Linked DNA regions of Homo sapiens. The protein of the gene in region 1 interacts with the protein of each later gene in a biochemical or structural test. Each region holds a gene or a part of one and is shown on either strand. Other genes may lie near its edges. The genes, in order: ARHGAP32 and BCAR1.

Region 1 (3,816 bases):
AAGCAGTCTGTTTTAACCTGAAATAATTCTGTTGATATTTGAATCACTTTCAGTGGGACATTTGCTTTAAACCACAAGATATCTCCATCTCCAGGTACAAAAATCCCTTCCTCCCTCCCCTGCCACCCCCCACCCCACCCTGCAACCAAAGAAACAAACAAAACCCAAACCCACAACTCAGCTTCAAATAAGTTTGCAAGAAATGAGACTCTAAATATTTACATATGGGGCAAGAAATAAATCACAAAACTATTTACAAAAATACACAAGCTTATATGCATTAACAATTTACACCAGTTCACAAAAATATTAAGACATAAAAAAACACTATATAAATTAAAATTAAAAACTCAAAAGTATGATCTAAGACTTCCTAGGATGCTTCTCTCATGCAGGTCATGGTTGAAAAATCAGGTTTTGCTATCTCAGAATCTAAACTGTAAAACCATTTTTATTCTTTGAACATTAACAGTACTAATCAGATAAGGAAAAAAGACCCTCTGTGCACACTGACATTATCTTGCACACGTTATAATACACCATTCCTGACATTTCTGTAACACACAGTGCTGAAAATCACATGCCTCTAACCATGTGGAAGAAGTAACTGTCTGACATACTTTTGCTTTCATTATTACTTTCTTACACATTCTGCTCAAGCAGTACTTTGCCAACATCCTAAATGGGTGACTGACAGGGCTGAAAACAGAGAAATGGACTTTGCAGGCTCCTTCTTTAACTAAAGGGGCAAATTTCAAATTTACATCGTTTGCATCTATTACTGCTCCAAATGTGGTAACCTACTCCTCCGTCCCCACTCACGTTAGTTAACAGTCCCTCCTCTCTACAGAATTAGTCCTAGAATTTTTCAACCTGACCCTAAATTTTAAAAAATGCTTTGCCATTGTAAGAAATGTGCAGGCCCTAGTCGTGGGACCATCCCAGGGACTTGCAGGTTTGAAACGAAATTGAATATAGTAAGAAATAAGGCTCCAATGAAATTTATTAATAAGAAAATGGCACCTCTGGGATTGTTAGCAAAATTTTTAGCCAGACGTCCAGGGAATATTTATTTCAATCAGACCAAACTGTGGAATCAGAATTTTGCCAAAAAGATAAAATCTGGAGGCATGGCTATGAAAATGTCAATAGGATTAAATCACGGGTTTAATGTATAAGGCAGCTCCATTTCCTTGATCATAATGCTCCATGTCAAAATTTGAAAGTAATAACATTCAGTTACCCCATTTGTGAAGTCCCCCATTTGTGAAGTCACACACAAGGTGGACTGTGCTGAGGTATCCGGCTCACAGTGATTTGCCATCCGGTTTCCACCCCACAACATTAGAAAGGGAAAGATGCCGGAAAAGTGTTTCAAATAACTGAATCCAAAGTTAAGGCTGTTGCTAGCATGCATTAAATGAAGCAACTCTAGATTTGATCTGAAGTTTGTGTTTCACGCTTGTAACAGTAATTGCAATCATCATTCTGTATTCAAATATTTACCTGATATTTCTAAACCCACAGGACATTTATTAATAAAGAAATTGTTTCGAGGAATTAACCCTACTATTTATAAAATAGGTTTTAGTTTCAGGACTAAACAATGTGTGTGACAACAAATCCACAAATATTAAAACTGGACCGGACTCCCTGGGTTACTTTCTTTAGGCTCTCAGTTACTTAAAGCCGTGTGTATCTCCTGGTCACAGCAGCCCCTCTTCCTAATCTCCATGCTGCTGGTGAGAACTTACAGGGCTGGTGTGGTCTCCAAGGGGCAATGGGTTGCCTACTTGACAAGAATATGATTAAGGTAAAAAAAATTAGTGCCACATATTCACCAAAGGTCATACTCCTGTATGTAGCACCCAGGGTGTTTTTGTGCCAAAGGGAAGTATCCTATCAGGTTTCCTAGCACTTTGACTGTAAAACAGTTGGTTCTGCACTTTTAATGTAGAGGCCTCAATTTCCACAGACCTTTTCACATATGGGTGTTTCAAGGTTTCTACTACAGTTTTTACTGCATCCCTCCAATGAATTCTAAGGGAACAAAAGAAAACCTTATAGAATATTTCCACATATCAATGTGTTGTTCTTGAAACATTTTATTTTTTTCTAAATATAAACCCTTAAAATGCACATTATTTTTTAAAATAAAAACTGGCATGAATCCTAATCTTTATACAATTTCACAGCAATAATAGCAGCATGATTTTAGCCTCTTAAAAGATTTCCTCCTTTGCTCTAAATAAAAATTAATTTCAAGTTCTAAAAAGCCAGAGCAGCAACCATCCAGTAATTGGAATGCAATTCTCCTAGTGTCTTCTACAGACCGAGCATTTAAAATACGTGAATGTATAAAACTTGAGTATTATTAAGAGTTATGGAATGAAATGACAATCTAAACTCGTTTTGTAAACATAGGACTGCCTTGCTAGTCTGATGTATTTTGGGGGGTGGAGGGAGCTGAGAACATAGAATGGAGTTGGGCTAGAGAGTTCCTACTCTAATAAGGAATGCAACTTTCAAAACTCGTGGGTGTTAAACATGTTTTACATGTCTCCAGAGTTATAAAGAGCTATACCTGAAATGCTGGTGTAGATGGTAATTACAAGAAGACTGTGACCACACAAGTATAGAGTAAGCAAACGACAGTAATGCCTTAGGACAGCAATAACTGCCCAGAACTCCACTGGTGAAACGGGGCTGTGAACTAAGCAGTTATTGCAGGAACTTGCAGTCTAATAATAGATAATGCGTAGCTACTTAAATTCCCAGGGACCTCGTACTCTGGTTTAGGAACAGAAACAAACATGGAAATTTATATTCATAATAAATTATGCGTGTCTATCCAGTCAAACCATGCTGGGCTTTTTTTTTTTTTTTTTTTTTTAATGAAAGAAAGTTGATAATTTAGGAAAACCAATGGTATGACATGTTTTACTAGAATTACAATTCACCAAATCTTATTGAGGGGTGGGGTAAGAAGAAAACCTGAAGGCAGGCAATGCATTAAAAGCATCAATAGAGATTTCTGGTGCTAATAAAGTTCACTGACAATAAGAACTTTACTTTCTTCCACCTAAAGAAGTTTCCTTAAGTACTAACTTTTAAAAGTCCATTCTGTCATGATATGAGCCTGTTCACTGAACCGTGAGGAACAAGGATGAAAAATAAGAATAGAAAGAGTATGGTTCAGCCTGAGTCTAAGTGGTCTGGTGTTTTATGATGACTCTACCAAATGTTTAATTTAAAGTCTTAATTTCTTATTTTTAATTATAATGTTGCCAACTGTCTGACTGACCTTGAAGGATCAGGGATTTTTCCACGACTCTAACTGAACACAAGATCCTTCTCAGACGGGGAGAATGAAGTGACAACAGTGTGTCGATCTGCGCAAGTTGTGCAGCTACTGAAGGAGAAGCAGGAACACAACAGGGAATGCAGACGCCTACCAGGAAATCGATGTGAACTGCTCTCAATTATGCAGCAAATACTAAGAAGAAAGGACAATGCTGAATTCAAATTCAGTTAAAGGCAGTCCTCAGGCTCTTTCAAGCTAGCCCTAGATGGCAAGTGTGTCCTGAGACAGGTTTCTCTACTGGGTTTCAGCACGGGGCTTTACCATCCTTCAGATCTTTTCTAAAGACAAAAATGACAAAGTCTATAGATGGAAGAGGGGGTAATGAAGCAGGGAAGGGGAAAAAGATGCTGATTTGTTTACTTTTATTATCATTTTTTAAATGTGGTCAGGGGTTTTATAGTATTTTTTGTTTAATCTTTTTGGTTATTGAAAAAAATAGAACAGTCCACTGT
Region 2 (3,816 bases), on another chromosome or scaffold:
CCAGGAGGCATGGCCGGAGGTCGTTGGCGGGTGGGGGACTCCATGGACATGGGCCACCAAGCCTGGCCACCAGGGGAACCTGGGTCACTGGCTCCCACTTCCTGCTCTACCTGCTCCTTCAGCCATCTGGTCAGAGGCGAGCCTGGCTGGCGTGGGGTGCCTGGGTGGGGGTGCTCCCAAACTGGCTTTAGCAAGAGGAGCAGGGTCCTGTTATCCCCTGGGGAGGCGGCAGGGAGCAGTGTCCTGTAGGGGAGCCTCAGGCCACAGTCCAGGTATACCCACACCCCACACAGATGAACACACGTGCATGATGCCTGTACCCCACAGATACGAACACCCATGCACACACCATATGCACGAACACACACATGCGCTACATGAATGTGCGTGAATACATGCACATATCTGCATCCCATACCCCATAAATGGACACACGTATACGCCCACACATGCGCACATCATATGCATGAACACGCACACACCCAAACCCCATATGTGTAAACACACGTGCATACTCACCCCACACACAGACACGTGTACGTCCACACATACAAAGCGTGTGCACCCACCAGTATCCCACAAACGTACAAATGTATGTGCGTATGCACACGCACACACAGTCCACACTGCACATGCCCCAAGGTCAGGCACATCCCCACCCCTCCTCTCCCGCCTTTGCAGTGAAGCTTGTCCTGGTGCGGCTGGAAGCCCTGTGGGCTGGGGAGCAGCAGCGAGACCCCCAGACAGAGCCCGGCCTCGAGGCTGTGTTTTGGCAGCTGTTCTGTCTCCGTCTCCGGCAGGGGGCCTGCTCTCAATTGCATCAGGGGCTCAGCCAGCTGGGTCCTTCTCTGCCCATGCCCACTGGTAGAGCTGCCCAGACCTGTGCCCCAAGGGCCCTGACCTGGCTGATGGCCCAGGAAGGAGAGCCCTGTGTCCTGGGCCTGGCTGCTCTCCCCCAGGAAACCTCCCCCAGTCTTGATTGTGTCTGCTTGTATTTTATGATCACAAAAGCAATGCTTGTTTGCTGTAGAAAATGCATAATGTATGGGAAAGTCTGGAGATGAAATTTTCCAATCGCGGTAATCACTGGGAAATTCTGGCATATTTTGTCTAGTATCTGCCCTGTGTTTCACAGATTTATACATGCAGTTTTGCATTTCAAAGTTGTAAATCCAACATTAGATATCAAAAGCATTTTGTTGAATTCTTAAAGCTTGTCCCTGAGCCGCCTTGGACTTTGCTGGGTTGCCCCCTCTGCTGGGGCGGGCCCTGGGCAGTTTCCGATTGCTCATGCCTTCATTACGGTGGCACGGCGGTAACACCTGGCTGCGGGACATCTGTGTCTGAACCTCCAGGTGCTCCCCTCCAAGCCTCAGGCCTGCCCCTCAAATGCCTGGGAAACTGAGTCTCCCAGTTCCAGGGTAGTGGTTGGCTGGGCTGAGAAGGAGCCCTTGCCAGGACTTCACGTGGGCGGGAGGGACACTGGCTCTCAGGAAGCCAAGAGGGTGAGTGACAAGGATGGTGGCCAGGAGGGTCAGAACCCTGGGCCCTGGAGCAGGGTCCAGTGGTTGCTAAGGTGGGAGCCTGGTGGCCCGTATGGCTGAGGGAGAGGTGAGGGCCACACTGGCACCGAGACTCTTTGGGCCGGGTGTGGGCTGTAGGAATCTGAGGGCAGAGGCTCTTTCATGGTCAGATGGGACCCCCGGGGGAAGGCGTCTGTGGGAGGTCGCTCAGGTAGTGCCCCTGGTCAGTGTCTAAGGAGACAGCCATGGCGTGAGGTCAGGCGTGCACGTGGTCCTGTCGGGCCTGTGTTTCACCCTCCTCGCCCTAGAAGCTTCATCTTGCCCCAGGCTCCCCTGTGCTGGGACCTCAGGCTGGGGTGCCTGGAGCTGGGGAGGGAGGGGAGCGGGCTATGGTGGTGGCCCCTCAGGCCACCATGACCCAGGTCGGGTGAGCCCCTCATGCTGGGGTGTGTCCTGGTGGCCGTGGTCGCAGCGCTCCTGTGGTGCTCCATTTCCCAAGGAGGAAACGAGGCTCCTGGATTGGGACCTGGGGGTGCCAGAGCCGGGAGCCAACCCAGGTCAGGGGCGACACCCATTTTGCAGAAGGGGGAGACCAGCCACTGAGCTCCAGGGCGGGGGCCCACTTTGTCCCCTTCCTCCGACCTGACACCTGCCTCTGGGGCCCTTACCGGGAGGCTGGGATGTATTCCTGAGTTCGCTTGTCCCCCCGCTTGATGCCTGATAGTAGGGGAGGAGAGGGGCGGCACCCTGGCCCTGGGGCTGCCTGGGTTCTGTGCGTGCACCTGGCAGTGGGCCTGTGCTGTGTTTTCTCTGCATTGTATGAGGCATGTGTGTCAGAGACCGTGTGGGTCTTATGTCAGTGACTGTGCCTCTGTTCTCTCCTCCTGGGCTCTGGCTGTGTTCCCCTAACCCCCGGGGGACCTCCACGGCCTGCTAGTGGGGTCTCAGGTGTGCAGCAGGGTGGCCTGTGATTAGCAGTGGGGCTGAGTCATTCCCCTAAAGAGCTTTTCCCCCTGGTGGCTGCGTTGCTCTGTTTTTCTAACAGAAACATTTGGTCACTGTGGCTGCCTACTGCCACCCGACTCAGCTCCAAGAGTGGCAGGCGGCCATTTGCCTGGGGAGGCAGGCCTGGGTCCAGCTGCACCCCTGGGCCTCACCGCGTGAGGTTGGGATGGCCACCGGCAGGGTGCTTTTGGAGGATGCTCATCCCTCCTGCTGGTGCTGGGTCCTGGCTGAGCCTTGAGGCTGGGTCCCCACCTGCCTTTGGGAGGCTGGGAGGCCTGGAGAAGCCTCAGGCCGTGCCTCGAGGCCCAGCCAACCTGCCACGTCCCTCCGCCCCGCCTGCCCCGCTGTTGGCAGGTCCCTGCATCTAAAAATAGTTCTGGAGGAGACTCAAGTCTGGGGCGCGTGGAGGGAGATGAGTCTGGAGAGGCAGCCGCCAAATCCACTCCCAGACGCACTGGAAGGGGGCGGGGACACCCCACGGAGGCCCCCAGCCGGGACTCTGCTACCAGGCGTGCTGGAGACCTAGTGGGCCCAGTTCTGCTGCGCTGCGGGGGGCTCTGCCAGGCCTGCGGCTGCTGGGGGGTGCTGGCGCCTCTGCCACCCCCATGCTCAGCGCCCCCCTCACAGCACCCTCAGCAAGCAGGGCTGGCTGCCTGCCTGCATTGGGAGGGCCTCTAGGGGTTCAGGGGCACTGGGCCCGGGGGAGGGGCTGCTTTGGCGCTGCTGCCCTGGGGGATGTGCGGGGAGGCCCTGAGTCAACCCTGTCCCAGACATCCCCTTTGATGAAGGAACAAAAGGTCTTTCAGTGGAGAGAGCTGAACAGGGAGCCTGGTGGTGGAGGCGTGTGGGCGCAGTGTGCCCGGGGGCTGGAGAATCCCACCAGGGAGGCCTTGACCTCCCCAAGGCAGGGAGACCTTCAGGGAAGGAGGCTGCCTGGCATGGCCCCTACCCGCTTCAGGCTGGTGCTGGTGAGGGGTCCTGTGGCCCTGGGCAGGCCATTGTGCTGCCTGCCTCTTCACCCACTGTGCGGGCCTTGGCTTCCCTGGGCTCTGGGTCATGGTAAGAGCACCTGGGGAGGGGAGGGCTGGCCCTGGACCCACTTCCCCCACTAGGCCTCATCCTTTCAGGTCGCTGGGGATCTTACCTGCTGCAGGCAGCTCCCCCGGGGCAGGCGCGGCAGGGAGGGGGCCTTGGTCCCAGCTGCTGCGCCCCCCAGCACACACCCAACCTGCCCCTCTGGCCCTGTCCTCCAGAGTCTCCCCATGCTGTGCTGTGGGGCAGGGGGTGC

What was found.
Region 2: the proteins of ARHGAP32 (region 1) and BCAR1 form a complex in vitro, tested with the Homo sapiens proteins (one study listed by BioGRID).

What each region holds. Positions count from the first base shown.
Region 1 is NC_000011.10:128,965,054-128,968,869, forward strand, and holds the end of ARHGAP32 (rho GTPase-activating protein 32), read right to left. Parts: 3' UTR 7-3,816; downstream 1-6. UniProt on the Homo sapiens protein: GTPase-activating protein (GAP) promoting GTP hydrolysis on RHOA, CDC42 and RAC1 small GTPases. May be involved in the differentiation of neuronal cells during the formation of neurite extensions.
Region 2 is NC_000016.10:75,237,862-75,241,677, reverse strand, and holds part of BCAR1 (breast cancer anti-estrogen resistance protein 1), read left to right. Parts: intron 1-3,017; exon of another isoform or gene 3,018-3,584; coding exon of another isoform or gene 3,585-3,587; intron 3,588-3,816. UniProt on the Homo sapiens protein: Docking protein which plays a central coordinating role for tyrosine kinase-based signaling related to cell adhesion. Implicated in induction of cell migration and cell branching. Involved in the BCAR3-mediated inhibition of TGFB signaling.